Linked DNA regions of Homo sapiens. The protein of the gene in region 1 interacts with the protein of each later gene in a biochemical or structural test. Each region holds a gene or a part of one and is shown on either strand. Other genes may lie near its edges. The genes, in order: TRIM63, ANKRD1, USP33, UBE2D3, USP4, UBE2K and UBE2D1.

Evidence for each region.
Region 2: the proteins of TRIM63 (region 1) and ANKRD1 form a complex in vitro, tested with the Homo sapiens proteins (one study listed by BioGRID).
Region 3: of the proteins of TRIM63 (region 1) and USP33, one has a biochemical effect on the other in vitro, tested with the Homo sapiens proteins (one large-scale study listed by BioGRID).
Region 4: the proteins of TRIM63 (region 1) and UBE2D3 form a complex in vitro, tested with the Homo sapiens proteins (5 studies listed by BioGRID).
Region 5: of the proteins of TRIM63 (region 1) and USP4, one has a biochemical effect on the other in vitro, tested with the Homo sapiens proteins (one large-scale study listed by BioGRID).
Region 6: the proteins of TRIM63 (region 1) and UBE2K form a complex in vitro, tested with the Homo sapiens proteins (one study listed by BioGRID).
Region 7: the proteins of TRIM63 (region 1) and UBE2D1 form a complex in vitro, tested with the Homo sapiens proteins (3 studies listed by BioGRID).

What each region holds. Positions count from the first base shown.
Region 1 is NC_000001.11:26,050,801-26,054,215, forward strand, and holds the end of TRIM63 (E3 ubiquitin-protein ligase TRIM63), read right to left. Parts: intron 3,165-3,415; coding exon 3,093-3,164; intron 1,084-3,092; coding exon 1,073-1,083; 3' UTR 501-1,072; downstream 1-500. UniProt on the Homo sapiens protein: E3 ubiquitin ligase. Mediates the ubiquitination and subsequent proteasomal degradation of CKM, GMEB1 and HIBADH.
Region 2 is NC_000010.11:90,911,596-90,914,841, forward strand, and holds the end of ANKRD1 (ankyrin repeat domain-containing protein 1), read right to left. Parts: intron 1,382-3,246; coding exon 1,271-1,381; 3' UTR 501-1,270; downstream 1-500. UniProt on the Homo sapiens protein: May play an important role in endothelial cell activation. May act as a nuclear transcription factor that negatively regulates the expression of cardiac genes. Induction seems to be correlated with apoptotic cell death in hepatoma cells.
Region 3 is NC_000001.11:77,753,353-77,756,852, reverse strand, and holds part of USP33 (ubiquitin carboxyl-terminal hydrolase 33), read left to right. Parts: intron 1-3,500. UniProt on the Homo sapiens protein: Deubiquitinating enzyme involved in various processes such as centrosome duplication, cellular migration and beta-2 adrenergic receptor/ADRB2 recycling.
Region 4 is NC_000004.12:102,817,552-102,821,051, forward strand, and holds part of UBE2D3 (ubiquitin-conjugating enzyme E2 D3), read right to left. Parts: intron 1-3,500. UniProt on the Homo sapiens protein: Accepts ubiquitin from the E1 complex and catalyzes its covalent attachment to other proteins. In vitro catalyzes 'Lys-11'-, as well as 'Lys-48'-linked polyubiquitination.
Region 5 is NC_000003.12:49,278,849-49,281,053, forward strand, and holds part of USP4 (ubiquitin carboxyl-terminal hydrolase 4), read right to left. Parts: intron 2,000-2,205; coding exon 1,896-1,999; intron 55-1,895; coding exon 1-54.
Region 6 is NC_000004.12:39,736,136-39,739,635, reverse strand, and holds part of UBE2K (ubiquitin-conjugating enzyme E2 K), read right to left. Parts: intron 2,217-3,500; coding exon 2,123-2,216; intron 1-2,122. UniProt on the Homo sapiens protein: Accepts ubiquitin from the E1 complex and catalyzes its covalent attachment to other proteins. In vitro, in the presence or in the absence of BRCA1-BARD1 E3 ubiquitin-protein ligase complex, catalyzes the synthesis of 'Lys-48'-linked polyubiquitin chains.
Region 7 is NC_000010.11:58,359,006-58,362,505, reverse strand, and holds part of UBE2D1 (ubiquitin-conjugating enzyme E2 D1), read right to left. Parts: intron 1,169-3,500; coding exon 1,105-1,168; intron 1,012-1,104; coding exon 980-1,011; intron 1-979.

The DNA.
Region 1 (3,415 bases):
AGCTAGGATTGCAGGCATGCGCCACCACGCCCAACTAATTTTGTATTTTTAGTAGAGACGGGGCTTCACCATGTTGGTCGGGCTGGTCTGGAACTCCTGACCTCAGATGATCTGCCCTCCTTGTCCTCCCAAAGTGCTGGGATTACAGGCATGAACCACTGCACCTGCCCAGCCTTAATCTGCCTCTTCTTGATGATTTTCAGTGAGCCTTCAGTGAGCCTTCAGTGAGCACGGGGAAGTCCCTATAACCTGCAACTAAAGCATTTAAATTTTGCCTCAGGCTCTGTTTTCTGGAGAACCAGAGCAACAACACATTGAACCTGTTCTTGAAGGACCAGCTCAGGGCTGGCTTTCCATGGAGTCCACATTGGGAAATGGTGGTGTCGAGAACTCCTTTACTGGGACCTAAGCCTAGCCCTGCCATTGCCTCCTACCAGGGGTCCTGTTCATTCACACTCAACCCTCATCTCCAGGAAAAAAAGGCTGAATGAAACCCCGGCTCCTTTGAAGAACAGGAAGAGAGCATTGTGCATTTATTAAAACAACATATAACACAAACTCAGTTACCACCCCGTATGTCTGGGATAGGCACTGAAATACAGCACATCGTCCCTGTGAGTGCTACCCCATCCTCCTGCTCAGGAAAGGAAGTGGGCAGCTGTATCAACCTGGCTTCCTTCCCCTCTTTCTGACAATCGCAGGTCACCCAACGACCAGGCATTATTATACAAAAGTTCCTTTACAAAAAGCACCAAATTGGCATACATATACAAGTATATACAAAAATCACATTTTAAAAATGTACAAAATATTCCATTTTGCACCAATGTAGAAAAGTGTCCTGTGTGATTGTTTCAAGCACGTTTCCAATTCTGGTTCAGTGTCTGCTGGACGCAGCGGTGAGGGTCCTACCCTAGTCCCTGCTCTCTGAGCAGAGAGAAGACATCACCTCCCCATTGCCCCTCCAGGGGCCCCGACCCCTCCCACCCTGGGCCTGTCACCAAGGCCGCTGGGCCCCTCCCCACCCTCTCCAGTCTCTCTGCATCTGGGGGCCTCTCATTCATCCAGCTCCTTACTGGTGTCCTGAAATGAAGAAAAAGATACAGAGGCAAGGGGTGAGACAGGGACTCAGGAGGATCCAAGGCTTACCAAGCTACTGTTTATTCAAACAGGAGTTTGAATAAAACATCAAACTCCAATTCCTCCCGGTCTCTTCCTTTTAAAACCAAAATAGAATTTAGCTGCCCAAATATTATGGATTGTACATCAGTACAAAACTCCAAAAGACTACCTATAGTTTTCAACTGGATTGGAATTTAGTTTCAGTACCTGTGGTTTGAAAAATAACATTTGCAAGCATGTGCTAATTAGCAAACGTCCTTCCTATGCATCAGACACCGTGCTAAACGATTATCTTATTCACTTCCCACTACAACCTTTTGACGTCAGTACTGTTAGACCCCCATACACAGATGAGTAGCCCAAGACTCAGAGAAATTGTGAGCTGCTGTGATTCAGAACCCAGGCTCCTAATCAAACTCTGCCAGGCTGGCAAACTCAGATGCCTACAAGGAGCCAGCAGATAACATGAATGAGTGAAGCAAGCGGGACTGGTGGTGGTGGGGCTGGGCAAACTGGCAAGGGCATGTCCCATTTTTCTTTTCTTTTCTTTGTTTTTTTTTGAGATGGAGTTTCACTCTTTTGCCCAGGCTGGAGTGAAGTGGCGTGATCTCGGCTCACTGCAAGCTCCGCCCCCCTGGGGTTCTAGCGATTCTCCTGCCTCAGCCTCCCAAGTAGCTGGGATTACAGGTGCCCGTCACCACGCCTGGCTAATTTTTGTATTTTTAGTAGAGACGGGGTTTCACCATGTTGGCCAGGATGGTGTCAAACTCCTGACCTCAGGTGATCCGCCTGCCTCGGCCTCCCAAAGTGCTAGGATTACAGGCGTGAGCCACCATGCCAGCGTGTCCCCTTTAAAGGGGAGAGCCACTGCCCAGAGCCAGCACTCTGGGACTACAAGGAAGTTCAAGTCCAGCATTGTTTGCTTTTTCTAAACTTTCACAAGGTGAAAATGCAGATTCTTAGTTCAAATCTCCTTTTTCTTAACCCTTAAAAAAAACCTAATTTTAAAAATGTTAGCAATTAATTTTTTCTTTTAAGAGACAGTGTAGTGTCCTCTGTTGCCAAGGCAAGAGTGCAGTGGCGCAATCATAGCTCACTGCAGCCTCTACCTCTTGGGCTCAAGCAATCCTCCAGCCTCAGCCTTCCGAGTAGCTAGGACTACAGATATGTACCACCATGCCTGGCTAATTTTTAAATTATTTTTGTAAAGACGAGGACTTGCTGTTGACCAGGCTGGTCCCAAACTCCAGGTCTCAAGCAATCCTCCCGCCTCAGCCTCCCAAAGTGCTGGGATTATAGGCACGTACCACCACACCCAGCCAGCAAGTATTTATTTATTTATTTTTTGAGATGGAGTCTCACTCTTGTCACCCAGGCTGGAGTGCAGTGGCACGATCTCGGCTCACTGCAACCTCCACCTCCCAGGTTCAAGCGATTCTCCTGCCTCAGCCTCCTAAGTAGCTGGTACTACAGGCGCCTGCCACCAAATTCAGCTAATTTTTTGTATGTTTAGTAGAGACAGGGTTTCACCATGTTGGCCAGGCTGGCCTTGGCCTCCCCAAGTGCTGGGATTACAGGCTCGAGCCACCGTGCCTGTCCAGCAAGTAGTTTTGTTTGTTTGTTTGTTTGTTTTAATTTAAACACAGTGCTGGCCAAACAAAACACCTCAATGGGCCCAGCCTAGCTCATGAGCCCCTGTCTTTTCCCTCTGCTGTGCCATATTGCTTTCCATTTAAGAAGATCATTTAGATGTGAAATGGGAGCATTTTATTATGAATAGTTTGGGGTTTTTTTCTTTTCTAAGGGTAAAGAGAACAGGACTTTACCCTCAGTAGGGTTAAAGCACGTGCTGGGGACAGTTCTGAGCGTCATTGCCAATGTCTAACACAGTGCTTCACATACAGTAGGCACCTCAGATTGTTGTGGAATGAATGAAGGAACGAAGGAATGGAGGTAGATGAATTTCTTACCTTCTTCCTTCCCTTCTGTGGACTCTTCCTCTTCCTGATCTTCTTCTTCAATGAATTCTTCCTCTTCCTCATCTGTGACAAAAAAACATTTGTGTTAGGATGGGGCCGGTTCCTTGAGGAGCTACTTGAAGAGGAACCAGGCAAGAGAGAGCACGGTCTAAACCCCTTCCTGTGCCCAGTCGGGTCAAACGGCCACACAGCGGCGGCAGTGGTCTGGGAGGGGATGGGCTTGCCAGACCCACGCTGCACAGAGGCCCTGCTCCTGCAATCCCCCGCACTCCGTCCCAGGGAGCTGGGCTCAAGTCACTTCCTTGCTCCAGCAA
Region 2 (3,246 bases), on another chromosome or scaffold:
CACCATGGCACACGTTTATGTAACACCGCTGCACATCCTGCACATGTACCCCAGAACTTAAAATTTAAATTTAAAAAAGTCACTAGTTAAGCCTTAATGGGAACTTCGTAAGAAATGCGGGTTTACCATGCAGAAATCATTCTGACCACCAGGGGTCTCTTTCTACACACCACTGGGACTGAAAGCTCGCTAGAATTCCTTTGTGTCTTTATGGCTCTCGGCCTAGCTGCTCAGTGTGGTGGTGGCATTTCGTGGCCTGTCACCTGGGAGCTTGTCAGAAAAGCAGAATCTCAGGCCCCACCTGAGACCAGCTGAATCAGAAATCTGCATTTTAACCAGATCCCCAGGTGATCTGTATACATATTAAATACTGGGAGTGCTGTTGTACGGGACATTTCTAATCTGCAAAACTTGGAAAACAATGGAAAAAAAAAACCCTCCTATATAGCTTTTTTTTTCACATAGGACATTTCCACCACACTTATAGAAGGACTTAGAGGTTTAGAGTTTGATTGCCTTTATTATGAATATAAAATGTACATACAATACAATATACATTTATACATTTACAGTTTGCATTTCCTTTCATCTTTTTTGAGCAAATTCAATTCTGCATGTCCCAGTTTGCCGCTCCTTCCACTGATTTGCACTTACACTCATGACGTTCTCTTCACTTGGGTACTCTGTGTACTCGGTAAAAAAAAAAAAAAAAAAAAAAAAAAAAAATCCAGCCTGGGGGTAAAATAGCTGGCTTCACTGTCCTTTTCACAGAATCACTTTCCTTCCATTGTTTCCTTTCCTGTCCCTACATGCCTTCCCTTGCTTCATTCAAACTTCTGCATTAAAAATTCAGGAGAAAAGAGGGCTGTGATAATCAGCCCTCTCTTAAAAACTCTTACATGAGCGAATGACACATAAGTAGGCACTTGAACTTTGCTCTTTCACCTGGTTTAAGAACTACCTATGGGTGGGAAGGCTCTGAAAGTGTTATATACAAATGAAGCTCTGCTCACCAGATGGATGATCATGAAGGTCTGAATATCAGTAGCGTGGCAGTAAATAAATAAACAGGAATACATAAAAATAAATAAGAGTTTCACTAAAGGAAATTTAAACACCTATAACCCTGTGCTTTCTCAAAACTTCATTAGGTACATCTTCACAACACGTTGATAAATAGAAACTAGATTTTATGGCTAGTGTCTCTTCTCTTGGGCCATGCCTTCAAAATGCCAGTGAACATTTACTGATTAAGAGTCTGTCGTTTGCCTCAGAATGTAGCTATGCGAGAGGTCTTGTAGGAGTTCTCTCTGAGGCTGTCGAATATTGCTTTGGTTCCATTCTGCCAGTGTAGCACCAGATCCATCGGCGTCTTCCCAGCCTAATCAAATGAGATAAGGAAAGTTGACTTTCAGGTGGGTGACATCTGTAAATTCACATTCTCTGTGTGTGTTTCATGAGGTAAGGATTAGGTATATGTTATAACAGTGTTTTATGGTTTCCACCAGGAGTGATCTGCAGTTTATACTCAAACCAGTCCTTCACTGTTTCTCAGAGGGATGCTTTTGCCATTTTAGAGCAAAAATCTTTTTCACGTGGGACCATCCCAGGTATTGGTAAAATCCCTTGTCCCTAGACACTATGTGTCAAGAGCACCTCAAGTCATTTTGAAATTTATAAAATGTCTCCATACATCTTCCAGTATCCTGTGGAATGGACTCCCGGAGGTGGGAGCATGCCTCTTGGACCAAGAATCAGTGCCTATCCATTTGAATGATAGTTCTTTGATTGATAAGAAATGATGGTAAATGAGCTGCATCAATAACTTGGCTTAAGGACTTAGGTACTGCTTGGGTACTATTACTGTTCCTGGGAGCAGATTTTTCATAACTTGTCAGAATTTTCAATGGACTCTCCCAGGAAATGTATTTTTCTTGGAGTTGATGGCAATGACACATGTGAACAAATAATTTTTGAGACGAAATTTTGATTTCCCTTATGCACGTGTCTCAAGATTTAAAAATATTAAAACCATGTCATCTCTCAATTCTCATCTATAGATCTGAGAAGTCCAAAATTTTTCCATCTCTATTCATTGAGAAGTTTCTTTTTAACCCAGCGACTGCAAATTGGCAGCTTTGAGATGCAAACCAGAATAGAGACCTGTTTTGTTTTGACCCAAACAGAACTTAGATTTTTTTTAAGATTAGTATGAATTGGCAACAGTTGGAAACCAAGAGCTGGATTTGTGACTTCTATGAAAAAATCAGAAGAGTTAAAAACATGGTACCCATGGTTCCACAGAGCAACATAGACTGGGTTGGGGAAGGGCCACCTTTAAAAGAGTTATGTGCACAGACCCTGACAGCCACACATTGAAGTCACTTAGGCCATCTGCCCGGCACAGTGAGGTCAGTCTGCAGTCAGATTATGAGATCTGTAGGTATTTAAATTAGTGGCCCTATAACCTTCATTTTGGAACTTCCCCACCTCTGTAGTGTCTTTCTCTAGGAACAATCATCAGTAGACATGAATATACAGTTTTGGATAATGAGAAAATATTGTATGCTGCTCCCAATCTCCTTAAGATGGCATCAATAGGTTATTGATCTTTGGGGGAAACATCAATCCATTGGGTCAATGACATTAATAGTTCCATAAACCTGATGCTAATATCTAACTGATAATTCAGAACCCTAAGCCGTATTTGTATATTTTGGGCTACTCTTCCATAAATTCCTTGCACTTCTCTCCATTGAAATTTATATTGTGATTTTTCTGGCTACTTACACAGTCTCCCTAAACCTGTATGCTATTTGTCTCTGCTGGTAGTGTCTCACTGCCTGAAAAAAAATCTTCACATTTTCTGCAGCTTTCAAGATTTCATTTAACCTGCTCTTTTTCTGATAGTTTAAAAAAATATTAGATAGGATCAATTCCAATATCTAGACTGAGGAAGCCCTACTGTTAACACTTTCCCATCCCAAGCAATCTTCATTTATCACCATTCTTTGATCCTGTCACCAAGCCAGATTTGTTTTAAAAGATAAGATATTCCTCTCAGTCTTTGCAACACAAATAAGGGGAGAAAATTATTTGCATTTATATGATGACTGAGTTTCCCTCCCCCCCCCCCCACTCTTTTTTGTAAAGTGATTCTTCAAAAGCTTCTTTAAAATTATTTCTTCAGAAATTTATACCTGTTCCTCTGGGCAATATTTTTTAAGCTTATATTAGATGGTGTTT
Region 3 (3,500 bases), about 52 Mb from region 1:
GTGACCATTATTTTTGTAGCCCTTATGGTTTCTCTGAAGTGCATCTTGAACTTGGACCTGAGATGACATGGGTGCAGGTGAGATGCTATAAAGCACAAGTGAGGAAGCAGGTAGAATCAGAGAAGGAGGAAAAAAGGTTAATAGTGGAAGGCCAACTGGAGGCTGCTTAAGCCTTTGGAGATTTTTGTATAACTGCCTCAGAGTTTTGTATAACTGCCCCAAATGAAGGGGAGCTGGGTGGTTTTCCATCTACAGTCAATCCTCACTGATAAAGATTGCCTTTATCTAAAAGGCTCCCAGAACTTCCCAGGTACACTGGTTAGGTAGGGCTTGGCAAGCTCCTGAGGTGCTGGAGAGCTGAGGAGAGAAGTAGTTGAGATGGGAAGTTGTCAGTGTGTTAACTGTGCATACCAGCTACAAGTAAACATTGAAGTGAGCTGAAAGGAGATGGTCCAGGTATCAACTCTGTGTCTTAACAGGCATTCTCATTGAATAATCCAGATGTGAAATAAAAGCCTCAATTTAGATAGAGACCTAGAAGAAATGTGAGATGAAATGTGGTTAAAAAAAAAAATGCCGAATTTAGAAACTGATAGAAAGTGAGGAGGGGAGCCAGGTGCTGTGGCTTGAGCCTGTAGTCTCAGTCACTTGGGAGGCTGAAACAGGAGATTTGCTTGAGCCCAGAAGTTCAAGTCCAACCTGGGCAATATAGAGAGCCTCCCATTTCAAAAAAAGTAAATGAAAAAAGTAAGGAGGGATCTAAGATGGTACTGAGGTTTAAAAGTTAGTTAACTTGTGAAAAAGAAGGGTTGACAGAAGGACACTGACTTTCAAATTAGTTTTTTAAGGAAAGTGAAAAAATTGCATAGTATTCAGGAGAGTGATGATAAGAGTGTTGATGACCAGTCATTCAAAAGGAAAGCAGGGTGGAGACTTGAACAATGCTGCCATCCCCACAAACTTATAATGTCTGGCCCATGCTGGATTATAAGCATTTGTTAAATTAATTTCTATCCCCCAGGGCTTATCACAGTCCTGAAATACAGTAATGTGGTGAAACTATAGGGCTGAATGTGACCTAAAATAAGACCATTTCCCACAGGTTTTAACTTTTATAAAATCCTAGAAGAGGAATTTCTTATATATTTTACTTTTTTGTGAAAGGGTCTCACTCTTGCCCAGCCTGGCGTGCAGTGGTGCGATCTTGGCTCACTGCAACCTCCACCTCCTGCGTTCAAGCAGTTCTCACCACTCAGCCTCTGGAGTAGCTGAGATTACAGGCGCACGCCACCATACCCAGCTAATTTTTGTATTTTTTGGTAGAAATGGGGGTTTCACCATGTTGGCCAGGCTGGTCTCAAACTCCTGACCTCAAGTGACCCTCCCACCTTGGATTCCCAAAGTGCTGGGATTACAGGCATGAGCTGCCATGTCTGGCTGGAATTTCTTATATTTTTTATGGAAGCATTACTGTGTTTAGATGAATCAGTTTTGATTAGTTTTAAAATCAATATTATAGTCTGGTAAACAATAAAAGAATTGATAATTTTTCTTATGGTGGTTCTCATTTGAATATGGTGATAGCATTTGTTTTCTCATATTCTTTCTTTCTTTTTTCTTTTTGCTCACAAGCTGAACTGAAGATTTAGGTTTTTCCATGTTTCTATGTGGTTTACATGAATATTTTTAATGACTGTTCCGTAATGCCAGTATATTAACTCTTCATCTTGCTCAAAAGTGAGACTTAGAGTGAAAATTATCATCAGCTTATTTGAGACTCTGTTAGAACTCTGTCATATTCATTAATTCATTTCTATTTCCTCTCTCTTCCAATATTTCTCAAAATTATTTCAACGAGATAAGGCTAGAATTGACCATATTTTGCCATTCATTATTGGACAGATTTTTAAAAATCTTTATAGGAAATGCTAATTAATATTTACAAATCTCATTTAGAGGATGTTATTTGGAATGAAGATTGCCAGATTGGAGCTATACTTTGGTATTATTAATAGTGGTAATGTTAAGAATAGATTGTAGAACACATAGGTTGTAGCCAGAGAACTCAGTTAGAAGACTGCGTATTTCTTTTAATAGCCTTAAGGCTCTCATTAATTAGACTCTTAAGGATCAATGAGACAGATTTTCTAGTAAAAGAGAAATAAAAAGATTAGCACTACATTTCTTTTTCTGTGTTGTGGTTTTGAATGAAAATTAAGAATGATTAGGTAAGTATTATAGGACTTTGTGGGATCTTCAAATCCTCACAGAGGTTTGAATGATTTTATTCTCAGAATATTTGTTTAAAGGGAAAGAAACAGTTATTTAAAATGCTTGTCAGCTGATTTCTTTTGTGAAAAGTCTCCCTGAGCACTTACTATGGATTGAGAATAAAATAAACTTTTCTGCTTGTTGTTGCACTCTTCATTGATAACTTCCTTCCATTCATCAGTTTTTTTGGCTTGCTTTTATTGGGTAGCAATTTTCTTCCATGATAAATATGGAAAGATAAGCCATAAGCTTATTCCTTCATTGTATTTTTGCTAAAGTGTAATATTTCATATGGTACTGCTGGACTAGTACTCGTGGAACCATAGTCTAGATTGAAACTGTTGAAAGACAAATCAATTTTTTTATAATCATAGAATCTTAATTCAATTCTGAGTTTTTAGTGCAAAGTGCTTGCTGTCCTTTGAAGCACCTCTGACAGTTACCCAACCTCTGTGTAACAATTATGGGGAACATGCTCCTTCCATGAAAGTTCATCTGTATTTGAACCGAAGTCTTCACCGTTGATTGAATATGCTGTTCTGACTTTCTCAAGTTGCACAGAAAAGAAAGGATCCCTTTGGTCATCATGTTCAATTGGAACATGTGTATCAAGTCCTGGCATCTTTTGCCTTCTGCTGTTTAAACATCCATGCTTTCAGTTCGTAATGGTTGACATTTACTGAGTACTTACTATATCACCCTCTTCTAAGTATTTTATATATACTAATATATAATATGTAATTATATATTAACGTATTATGTGTAATTATATAATTAGTTTAAAATATTATATATTAATCTTCTCCAAAACTCTAGAAAGTAGATATTTGTAATTAGATCAGTGTTTTAGATGAGGGAGCTAAGGCAAAGAGAAGAAACTTACCACTGGTCCCAAATCTAGGAGATAGTGGAGCCTTGCTCCAGAAACTTTACTCTTAGTACAGTGCTATCTTATAAGATACAGTTTTCAAATTATTTCTTTTAAGGTTTTCTATGAGAGGCACTCTTATTCTGTAGCTTTTAGTATTCTTCTTAAATAAAATACTGTATTCCAGATATAATCTACTTATTTTATGCGAACATTAAGATTGGCTATTATTTTTTCCCCTTTTCACCACTCTATTCAATTAAAAAATTATTATTTTTTTTTTGTAAAGATGGGGGGTGGGTATCACTCTGTTGCCTAGGCTGGTCTTGAACTCTTGGCCTCAAGCGATCCTCATGCCCCT
Region 4 (3,500 bases), on another chromosome or scaffold:
AAAAGGTTCCTTTCTCAACAGGGTGTCCTTGCAAAGATAATTTAATGTTTGGCAAACTGAGGGAAAAAAATTCTCAACTGCACCAAACTATTACTCAATGCTCCAGAATGAACACGATATGGAAAACTAATGTTTTCCTTAGTATTTATTTCCGCATAACCATCCACCGTTAGTCTGTATCTCATTATTCGTACGTAGTGTGAATCCAGTACTATTTTTCAAGTTACATGGCCTGAGAAAATGATTCTATCCCACAGCAAGACTATTTACTGGACTGGAAATCAATTTCCAACGACACCCATACTCAGCATTTTTAAAAGTAATTTTGTCTACGATAGTCACCTAACAAAATGTTTTTAGAGCCTAAAGTTTCACAGGCTTCAGGGACAAAAACACTAAAAAATTACACAATTGAAATTTTCAGCTTATTCCTTCCTAGCAGTCTAGAGGAAGAGGAACAGTGCCAAGAACCAGAAGGAACAGCTCTCACACGGCACCTGTAAAATTTTTTTATACTGTGCTGACTACCCCTCACCTAAGGGGAACAGCATTACTCAACTATTAAGGCCACTGAAACAGGAAAATGTTTGGTTGGGGACACTGACTTACTTTAGGAATTGCTCAAGGTTCCACTCACGTTGAAGGGACACTAAGATCAAGCACATACAATCAGGGTACAACACTAAGAAACTGTACTAGCTATAAAAAGAACAAAAGGTTGGACATTTCTTTTCCACAGAGTGCTCTTTTAGGAAACTTTCTCCTTTTAGTGTCATCTTCCTCTGAGCTGCTTCTCCTCAAACTTTCTGCACACTTGGCTAGTGTGAGAATCCAGACCTTCTCACTGGAAAAAATACTTGTATTTAAAAGCCTTAAAAAACCTATAGGAAAAGAAGTCAAGGAGACCCCTCTGCCTTCTTTCTAAGCTAGGTAAATGAGACCCTCTCAAAGCTCTCACATGGTCTAGTTCGCCTCATTAGTTAAAACACTACAAAGAAATTTGAGACAGCAACAGACTTTACACAACTGAGTTGTTTGCCTATTTCCTGAAGACCTGGTGGGCACCATGGTAGAAAATAGGGCAGGATTTTTTTCACCAAAAAAATCTCTCTAAAAGGCAACCAACAGGTACAGCTTAAGCCACTGGTGAGTGTTCTCATCTGGAAGTACATGATTTAAGCAGTAATGGGTTTGGTCACTATTTTTTTTTTTATTCTGAAACATTCCTTACATGAGATTTTTAATACAAAGCCTGCAAATGGTTTATCTTGAGGAAGACCTTTACTGTAGTCACTATGGGATATGGGATTTAACAGTTGATTGTTGGAGATGTTAAACTATGCTTTCTGCTTCTCTATTCTCTATCTTCCTCATTCAATGATAAGTGGTACTAGCAGTGGTGACCAACCACAGGCTACAAAGAACAGTAGGCCAAGGTATTGAAAACATTAAAGACCTGAAAGGATGCTAGGAGAAACATAAGAATGTCCCCTCCCTTGCTGGGCGTGGTGGCTCACGCTTGTAATCCTAGCACTTTGGGAAGCCAAGGCAGGCGGATCACCTGAGGTCAGGAATTCAAGACCAGCCTGGCCAACATCGTGAAATCCCATCTCTACTAAAATATAAAAATTAGCCGGGCATGATGGCGGGTGCCTGTAATCCCAGCTACTCGAGAGGCTGAGACAGGAGAATTGCTTGAACCCAGGAGACGGTGGTTGCAGTAAGCCGCAGTTGCGCCACTGCACTCTAGCCTGGGCAGCTGACCAAGACTCCGCCTCAAAAAAAAAAAAAAAAATTCCCTCCTTTCAAAGAGCTTATAAATTGGAAATACTAAAAATATTTATTCACAAATATTTATGAATATTATGAATATTCATGAAGCTACAGAGCAGCCATGTTCCAGGAGCCCAATAAGTATCTGAACATTCGGTTAACTTTCTTTCAATGACAGCCAGTATCTGTTCATCAGATCAACATAACCAAAAGGTAGCATTTATGAAAACAAGGTTTTAAGTGTCAACCCTATTAAAGCGTAACGCCATAAATAACTTATTCTAGGTTTCATCCCCCCAAGGCTTGTCAAAATTCAAAAGCCTATATAGTGGCAAGGCCAAGTTCATGGATTCTACCTTTAAGACAGTAAAATTATCACCACGATGTTCCACAAATCATTTGTTATCCCAATCTCTACCATCTATTTTGCACGTCATCACACAAAGGTCATACAGAGGACAGAACGCAGTAGTATAGATACATTTCCTCTCAGCACTTTCCGGAAAACTAAAAGCTTATGCCATTACTAAAGGTTAATTTCTTGTATTCTATTTGAGAGTCTATTTCTTTCAGAACTAAAGACAAGATTTACATGACTCAAAAGACAAGATTTGTATGACTGTGAATCAGCATTATAAAAACAGCCCTTGCCTCAAAAACCTATACTGAGCAACACAAAACACTGCTTTGGGGACTGGAAGAGATGATAAAATGAGGTGGGAAACAAAGGGAGTAAGTGCCTTAAGAAATTTTAAGAATCATCCTCAAGAAGACTTTACAACCAACCTAGAAAAATACAAAGGTGCGAACCAACAATAGAGGTCGAAGTGCAGTGCAATTAGCTGTCCATCAGGCAGACAGTAACTACTGTAACTGTTCATATAAAGATCTGGTTTACTATAAAGTTTTATTAACTTTAATGTTATGAAATGTCTGTATAAAATATGTAGATGCGAATATCAAGGCAGGGAACAACAAACTTCAGAAACATGGTTATTTCAAGAGAAGGATGCTTGGCAAAAAGATATGAACAATTTCACAAAACTCCAAATAGTCCCTTTAAAACACATTTTAATTTGAAATTTCTTCTGAGAAATCCTTTTTTATCTTAAGGTTTAACAGTAGGCACTGCACAGTATCTCACTGCATCACTGACAAGGTATTAACTTCCTGTTTAGTCGTAATTATAGGTGAAACAAGCATGCGTGTTCATTACACAAGGTACTAAGAATGGATTGAATATTACTAATTTTCTTTCGATCACCACTGAAGGTAAAGTCACTTAACATTATTCAAAGCCATTCTTTTGTAAGCATTATTTAAAAATGGGCAAAGAAACCCAAATTTAGATTTGAAGCTCTGCTCCATGAAAGCAAGAAGGGTGTTTTATGGACATTAAAACAAACAAAACAAACAAACAAACAAAAAAAACAAAGATTAACAGCCAAACAGCTGCCCAGTAGTAGAAAACATTCAATTACACATTAGCCATGAAATTACAGCAAGGTTAGGATTAATGTAAGTATTTCATACTGAAAAAGGTACAAGAAATCATGATTCACAATTGACAAACATTTAAATACGACAAATTCAGCTATGAAAAGTTGAAGGTCTCTTTTACAATAGATTATGTTGAAAGTATCATTAGGAGATAAAAATCAGATGTTTCAACAAAGTATAAAAATACTTCCCTAAACTTTTCCCTTCCCTACATAACAAGGTTGAGG
Region 5 (2,205 bases), on another chromosome or scaffold:
TATCATCAAAGTAATACCATTTACCATTCAGTTTGTTCTTCGCATATGCAGTGTCTGCCAAGTCAACAAAGAAAATACTCTAGCGGTCTCCAGAGAATTAATCTGGCTAGCTTATTAGGCTTGCACTAAATAAACACAAAAATCCCCAAAACAAAACCCCTGAAATTAAAAAAGTTTACAGTGTGTGTCTTAACAACCAAAAAACAACTCACCTTCTTTTCTAATCTGTTCCTTCTCAAAAAGGATCAAAAGGCTAAAAATGGAGCTGTCAGGGACCAAGATTTTAAACTATAATTTTGGGAAACTAATAGAAAAAACAGAGCTATTCAGTGCCAATCTTCAGGATGGCTATGTGCAATAATCCAAAACCAGGGAACCCATAAAAGGAGCTGAAACTTCTAAGATTTAAGCAAAACAATAGCTCTCACAAGGACATGCCAAGTCAGTCTCCCCCATTGCATCTAGGCAGGTGGCTACTAACATCAACAGAATGCTTAGTGCCTCGGGAGCCTACAGAATAATCCCAGTTAGAGGAACATTGGGTGTTTGGGTTTGCAGAGCTGGGATGTGAACAACATACCTTAGTCTCCATATCCAAAAAAAAAAAAATTTATCTTTCTCTAAAACTAGGAGTCCAGAGTCTGTGGTTAGGTAACAGTTTCCCACAATGATTCAAGCATTTCCCAGAGGCAATGCTTCTTGTCTTGACTTTACACTATTCCCAAGCAGGATGTGTTTATTACAGCAATCCCAGCCCAGTTCCTGCTCCACCCAGACTCTCAGAAACTACAGAACCCAATGGAGATCTGATATCCAGTGTCAACTTACTGTGTGGTTTTAGGTAAGGTGTTTAACACTTCAGCCTCAGTTTCCTCACTATAGCATTGACTGCACAAAGTGGTGGTGAGGATCATGGGAAAGGGCAACAGAGAAGGTGCCCAAGGCCAGTTCACACAGTCTGTGCTTGACACAATAGCAGCAACGGTGGCTTTCAATTTTGAAGTTCCAACTGTAGGCCCAATGTGGACCCTCACACAACCAGCCTAACCTCATGGATGAGAAAACTGAGGATGAGAAACTTGCCCAAATGGTATGTTTGTGTGCAAAAATTAGCAAATAAAAATGAACACAGGCAGGGCACGGTGACTCACACCTGTGATCCCAACACTTTGGGAGGCCAAGGCAGGGTGGTTCGCTTGAGCCCAGGAGTTCAAGACCAGCCTGGGCAACATGCCAAAACCCTGTCTCTACTAAAAATACAAAAATTAGCCAGGTGTGGTGGCGCACACCTGTAATCCCAGCTACTCGGCAGGCTGAGGCACGAGAATCGCTTGAACCCGGGAGGTGGAGGTTGCAAGTGAGCCGAGACTGCGCCACTGCTTTCCAGCCTGGGTGACAGAGTGAGAATCTGTCTCAAAAAAAGAGCAAACCAGCCAGGCACAGTGCCTCACACCTGTAATCCCAGCACTTTGGGAGGCCGAGGCGGGCGGATCACGAGGTCAGGAGATCGAGACCATCCTGGCTAACATGGTGAAACCCCGTCTCTACTAAAAATACAAAAAATTAGCCAGGCGTGGTGGCGGGCGCCTGTAGTCCCAGCTACTCAGGAGGCTGAGGCAGGAGAATGGCGTGAACCTGGGAGGCAGAGCTTGCAGTGAGTGAGATTGCGCCACTGTGTTCTAGCCTGGGTGACATAACGAGACTCCGTCTCAAAAAAAAAAAAAAAAAAAGAATTAAAAAAAAACAGAGAGGGGAATCAGTATGAAGAAAGCGTGCAGCATGAAGCCTGTGAAACTGCATAAGCAAAGCATTTAGGGCAATGCCTGGTCCACTGGTGAGAGATGATGGCCGAGCACATTTCAACATCTCAGAAGGAAGCAGATGTCAATACTTACAGTGGCCAACCCCCATGGCTCCATAATGATTGGACACGGCAATGAGGTCGTACACATAAGGCCTTGCTGACAGGTTACAGACAAACTCGGACATGTTCAGCCCTCTGAGCACAAAACACAAAAATAGTTATTGAATATGTTAAACCCAAACAAAGTAGTTAAGAGTAACCCAGCAACCTCTGTTATGCAACAGGGCAGAACACAGGGAGGCACTCAAACTATTCGAGAGAGACCAAGATGGAAGGGACTCTAGGATCCATGTTCTGACCACTGACATATTCAGGCTAGAAAATGGGGCTGGGTGTGGTGG
Region 6 (3,500 bases), on another chromosome or scaffold:
GCCTCTACTAAAAATACAAAAATTAGCCGGGCATGGTGGCGGGCGCCTGTAGTACCAGCTACTCGGGAGGCTGAGGCAGGAGAATTGCTTGAACCCGGGAGGCGGAGGTTGCAGTGAGCCAAGATCGTACCACTGCACTCCAGCGTGAGAGACAGAGCAAGACTCTGTCTCCCAAAAAAAAAAAAAAAAAAAATGAATAAACAGAATTGGTATAATATGCTAAAGACATTCTAGGGTCTTAAAAAATCTGGATTAAAAACAAGAAAATATTCAAGAATATTAGATTTTTAAAAAGTGTTTTGGGTAGCCGGGCACGGTGGCTCACTCCTGTAACCCCAGCACTTTGGGAGGCCGAGGCTGGCAGATCACGAGGTCAGGAGATCGAGACCATTCTGGCTAACACGGTGAAACACCGTCTCTACTAAAAAAATACAAAAAAAATTAGCCGGGCATGGTGGCGGGTGCCCGTAGTCCCAGCTGCTCGGAAGGCTGAGGCAGGAGAATGGCGTGAATCCAGGAGGCGAAGCTTGCAGTGAGCCGAGATCGCGCCACTGCACTCCAGGCTGGGCAACAGAGCGAGACTCCATCTCAAAAAAAAAAAAGTGTTTTGGGTAACTGTTCATTACAGAATTATAGAACCACTCGAAAGTATTTAGCTGGTGGCCGGGATTGGTGGCTCACGCCTGTAATCCTAACACTTTGGGAGGCCAAGACAGGCGGATCACCTAAGGTCAGAAGTTCAAGACCAGCCTGGCCGTTATTGTGAAACCCTGTCTCTACTAAAAATACAAAAATTAGCCGGCATGGTGGTGCGCCTGTAATCCCAGCTACTCAGGAGGCTAAGGCAGGAGAATCACTTGATTCTGGGAGATGGAGGATGCAGTGAGCCAAGATTTCACCACCGCACTCCAGGCTGGGTGACAGAGAGACTCAGTCTCAAAAAACAAACAATCAAAAAATGAACAACAAAAAACACACACAAAGTATTTAACTGGATATGGTGGCATGCACCTGTAGTACTAGCTACTGAGGAAGCTGGAGGATTACCTGAGCCTAGGAATTCAAATTTATAATGAGCTATGACCATGCCACTGCTCTCCAGCTTGGGTAACAGTAAAACTTTGCATATAAAAAAATAGATAAAACAAAACAGACATCACCACCACTTCCAATATTAAGTCAATTCTGATTTACATAAAGTGATTAAAAGCACAGGCTTTGAAGACAAAGGCTATCAGTTGTGCTACTTAGATGGTTGACCTTAAACAAGTTACTTCTCTTAACTTGTTTCTTCATCTATGAAACAGCAATCGTTGTATTTACCTAGTAAGATTTGCTGAAAGGATTAAATGAGAAAATACATGTAAAGACTGTATAATTAGGGTTACCATATATTGTTATATGTTTTCTAATAAACAAATATTTGAATAGTTATTAATGCAAGAGCCTTGGTTATATGCTATATAATCTAAATTTACAGTAATATTAATTAATGAAGACTCACCTAATAAGAAAGTAAAATGCTATAAGGTTTATTTCTGTATCTTACCACCCGATTCCATGGTCTAAAGTAGCTACAGACTTAATTTGTGAACACCAAGTTCAGCAAAGCCACCTCCTTTCTATGGCTTGAAATAATCACTAAAAGCTTTCCTGAATAAAGAAAATAAACATTTGGACTACAGCCTGTATGAAGACATGAGTGAATGAAATGCTGAATGACAGAAAGAAGAACTTTAAAAACAAAAGCAACATTTTACCAATGAGATATTTAAGGCAAGGTCTGTTTTAGATACCATATGAAGGGTAACTGAGTGTCTACAGTCCATATGATTTAGAGGTTTACCATGCCAGATCTTTTATTCTATTAAATTCTAACCTATAATACCTGTAACAAAGCTCTGCTAAAACTGTTTTATGGAAAGAAAAAAATTAGCTAAAATTCAGTAAGAAATACCAGTCTATATTCAGTATCTAAATTTAGTATTTTTTAAATTGCTGTTTATCTAAACCAAATGAAGTTACCCTCCATATAATTTATAGATGTTTAAGATTATTCTGATTAAATGTTTCAGACAAGTTCTAATACGCACAATATTTTGATACAGAAAAAAGTACTTGCCTTCATATGGTGTGTCTGGAGGTCCTGCTATTTCTCCTCTTAATTCTGTAAAATTCTCATCTACAAGATCTACTTTAATTTGATTTTTGCTCGTCTTAAAAATAAACAGAAAATAAATGTTAGTTATGTCAGCAAGAAAAACGCCTAAAGTATTACCTATAAAAAATCTTGAAACCCCCTCTTTCATAAGCTTGATTATCTGCTCTAGTAAAATAAGTCTCGGCTTTTCTAGGACTTAATTATCCAGTTTTAAGAATATTTAAAACAAACTAATAAATTCTAACTTCATTGTTTTAAACGAAATAACACCACTATGAACAACAATACAATGGCTTCTTGACTTTCTAGGAATGTTATTAGGGAAAAATAGTATAAAAGCTATTTTATGTTTGCCAATTCCATGTATATCAGGCCCAAAGCGATAAATCTAATCATCCACAGATGAACACTAAGATATTATATTCTGCACTATACCCCCACGATACATGGGTTCTGCTTAAACAGAAAATTCAGGGTCATTAAAAGCCATTTAGGCCATAAACTCTCACTTGAACTAACCATAACAACTTTAAATGTTTAGTTTAACTGACTGAAATAGTACACTATCCACCAGAATGGTGAAAGCTCTAGCTACCTAACAGATTCTCCTTTCCATGAAAAATTCCAGAGGACTAAATGCCTCAAAAGAAAAGGCCTTCTTCAATTTGTTTTTCTGCTTAGTTTATTAAAACGGCAACTACCTACTTCAAAAAACCAGATTTCTACTTTAAATTTATCTACATTGACTTATTTTGCACTTTAAACTACTCCAAGTACTTTCCTATCTATAGCATTACTGAGTCTCTTAACCTTATGACAGTCCATTCTCAGAGCCATGATAACCTTAAATGATTCAGAAAACCATCCAGTGGGACTCACATTAACATTCGTAAGTGCCTGCCAGCAAATGGGCTCTCCACTTATATTCTCAAACCTATGTTAAAAATACAGTAAATCCTCTCGATTTTTTAAACCAAAATCCCTAAAGAACAGGTTACATCTTCCTTTTTTTGAGACGGAGTCTTGCTCTTGCTGCCCAGGCTGGAGTGCGATGGCACGATCTCGGCTCACTGCAACCTCCACCTCCTGGGTTCAAGTGACTCTCCTGCTTCAGCCTCCTGAGTAGCTGGGATTACAGGCACCCACTACCATGCTCAGCTAATTTTTGTTATTTTTAGTCAAGACGGGGTTTCGCCACGTTGGCCAGGCTTGTCTCGAACTCCTGACCTCGCGATACGCCCGCCTTGGCCTCCCAAAGTGCTGGGATTATAGACGTGAGGCACCGTGCCCGGCCTATATCTTCATTTTTTTTGGTTAGAATTCCATATTGTTACCTGAT
Region 7 (3,500 bases), on another chromosome or scaffold:
TTAGTAACTAATTAAAAACAAACAGAAATAAATGGATTCTTATTGAAAGTTGTTATATAAATACATTGTATTTTGCCTTTTTAGAAAAACAAACTTAATAAAACAATAATTTGAGACAACTGCCCAGAGTACTGCTTTGAAATTCAGTAGTTTTGGTGTTTTTTAAAGTTAAACACAAGGTCGTATGATTAAAAACTCTGTAACTCACTAGATAAAGCTCTTTCAGGGCAGGGAGAAGAGAATGGTGTTCATGGAAACATGTTACTTATGTACTCTCACCCAGAAAGTAGATTTGAGCTGTCAGTGCTCATTCTTATGCAATCAGATTTTTTGCTCATAGAAAGAAAAAGCCTGTTTCAAGTCTTGTAACTGCCTCTAAAGTATTGAAAGAAATAATTTTAACAAAAGTAATAAGTATTGAGAGTAGCCAATTATCAAACAGCAGATAATTTTGTGTTTAGGACAATGCAACAAAATTAAAAGCAGCAAATTTATAAGGAGGTAAAGACAGACCCATTGTAATATTTTATTGATTCTCTTTCACAAAAAAGAACAGTGATGAAACTTATGGCAAACTGACACTTGTTACTTGTAGGAATTCAATTATTGGCTTCATTAGACTAATTTCTAACCTACCAAAACTGTGGATGTGAGAATGATTATGGTTAATTACAACTAACTCTCTGTGACTTAAAAAAAAAAAAAAAAAAGATAAACACACAGCCTGGTTGCGAGCTGTGGCACTCCATTATGTGTAATGATCTAGGATTCAGCAAAGGAAAACATAATAGTGATCCCAGGAAATATTTGCCACCAATGCTTTGGAAAATCATTGTAAATCCTTAATAATATTTTGCTTCCTAGGTGATTCAAAGTACAAGAATATTCAACCTTCATCACAAACATCTGATCAAAGGTGAAATGGCAAGAATGAAGTATGGCTGAGGGGGTTAATTTCATAGATATGAATCATACTTACAGGCCCCATAATAGTGGCTTGCCAGTGGAACACTGAAACAAACAAAGGAGTTTTGGAGTCATTAACAAATGTTCAAACCTATATTTTTAAAGGTAGCATAATCCCAGAAATAGAGCAAGGCTTACAGTCATCTCCCACAGGTCCAGCTGAACAGTGAGCAGGTGGATCGCGCTGTAGATCACTCAATTCCTGAAGGAAATCAAAAATATGTAAGGTTAATTCCTTCTTTTCCCAATGAAACAAGGGTAATGATCCATTAAGATGCAAACTATTAGCTTTAAAAACATTTAAAGCAGTTCTATTCAAAATATAAAAACATAAATTGTACTCTGTCATTGACTGGTAGAAAGAATAAGGTACTCAATTCCTCCATGAGACAGCTTCAGACCTTGAAAAGATTAAATGGAAAAAAAATACTGTTTTTCTTTAACATCCCTAAGAGAAAAACTATTTAATGAGTACCTACTGTATGTAAGATAATTTATGTAAATGCTAGGTTGATAATATATCAGAAAACAGGTACTATTTTAACAGGTTACAATCTATTGAGGGAGCATGAAGGCTCAGAAAGAATAATACTTCAGGATAACTTTTTTTTTTTTTTTGAGACAGGATCTCACTTTGTCGCCCAGGATGGAGTGCAGTGGCACGAAAGCTCACTGCAGCCTCAACCTCCTGGGCCTAAGCGATCCTCCCACCTCAGGCCCCCACTCCTACCCCGAGTAGCTGGCACTACAGGCATGTGCCAGCACACCCGGCTAATTTTATTTGTAGAGATGGGGTCTCGCCATGTTGAACAGGTTGTTCTCCAACTCCTGTGCTCAAGTGATCCACCTGCCTCGGCCTCCCAAAGTATTGAATTACAGGCATGAGCCACTGCACCCAGCTCATTTAAGGACAACTTGAAATGGGAAATAAACGAGCAGCAGTCAGGCCATGTTTTGAAACTTAGAACATTGATTCATACCCTGTTTCCTGCCCTCAAGGCAGCAAAGATCACAGAAAGGACACAGCTTTAGAGTTCACCCCGCCCCTGGGTTGTAATTCCAGTTCTTTCCATTTTTCTTCTTTTCTCTTTTTTGGATTTTTTTTTTTCCTCTAACAGAGAGAATTCCAGTTCTAATAGATCTCACTCTTTGGCCTTGTGGAAGTTACTTCACTTCTTTAGCCACAGTTTGGGAGAAACTGATCATCCCAAAGAAGAAAGGCATACATTCAATATAAAGGACTATAACTGAAGAACTTAATTTAGTTTGGAAGATCAATAATCATCTCTGAGGAAGTGACATTTAAGCTGAAATCTAAAGGATGAGTAGGAGTTACTTTTGGAGGAAAAGAGTGATACTGGGAGGCAGAGTGGCAGAGGATGAGGCTGGAAATGTGGGCAGAAGCCAGGCAGGAAACAGACAACCATACAGACCACATTAATGATGTGGTGTTTTATACCAAATGCATTAGGTAGGGGGTGAGGGAGGTCTTAAGAAGTGGCATGTTCTGATTTAATGGATGGTTGTGACTGGATTAGACATGGGAAAGAGGAGAAGCTACAATATTAGTTGCTGCATAGGCAAGAAAAATGGGGGCTTAGATTGGAGAAGTGGCAACAAGATAGAAGTGGTAGATGTGAGATACTCTGAAGGGCCTATCTATCACAGGAGTTGATGAATTACATGTGCAGAGGAAGGAGAGAAGTCATAGATATGTATGATGAAGATTAGGGACAGCTAACATTTATTCAATGTCTTAGTCATTCTAACAATCCTCAGAGATAGGTGTTATTATGTTCCCCATTTTACAAGTGAATAGTTAAGGTGACATACTTCACTGCATGCTTGAGTAACTACTATAGGGCGGAACTGGGATTCAAACCCAGGTGGGCGATCATCTCATGTTTTAGTTCCACAAATGTACGAATGTGGATGCCATTCACTGAGATAGAGAACAATAGAAGACAAACTGATTTGGAGAGTAGATATGTTGAATCTGTAATCCTTGTGATATGAAGAAACAATGTGGTTCAACATACAGGGGTGGACCTTAAAAAAGGATAGAAATTGGAAAATCATTGCATATATCTGATATTTAAAACCATGAGAATGATGTAAACATTTTTGTGGGAACACACAAAAATAAATATGCACTTAATCAAATCTAAGATGTCATCAACTGTACAGCACATCCTTATTTTAAGTACCAATAATTAAGAAAAAATGCTGCCAATTTATTTTAAAACACCATCAATTGTAAAATGCATCCACACTTTAGAAAAGTTAAAATGTGAAAGATGTCCACCTTAGAATCACTGCAATAAGGTAATTATGGCAATGAGTTCAGTGCTCTAATAGAGACAAACAAGAAGGAGGGTGTGACAGGGAAAGGCCTTCCTAAGAAAGTGATAAATGAGCTGGGTGACTGAGCCAGGTACAAACTCAGGTCTCCTTCTAAGCTCAATGTTATTTTCCAGTATACCTTGGTATTTTCATTTTTGTTTTGCTTTTTTTTTTTTTTTTTTTAAATAGCT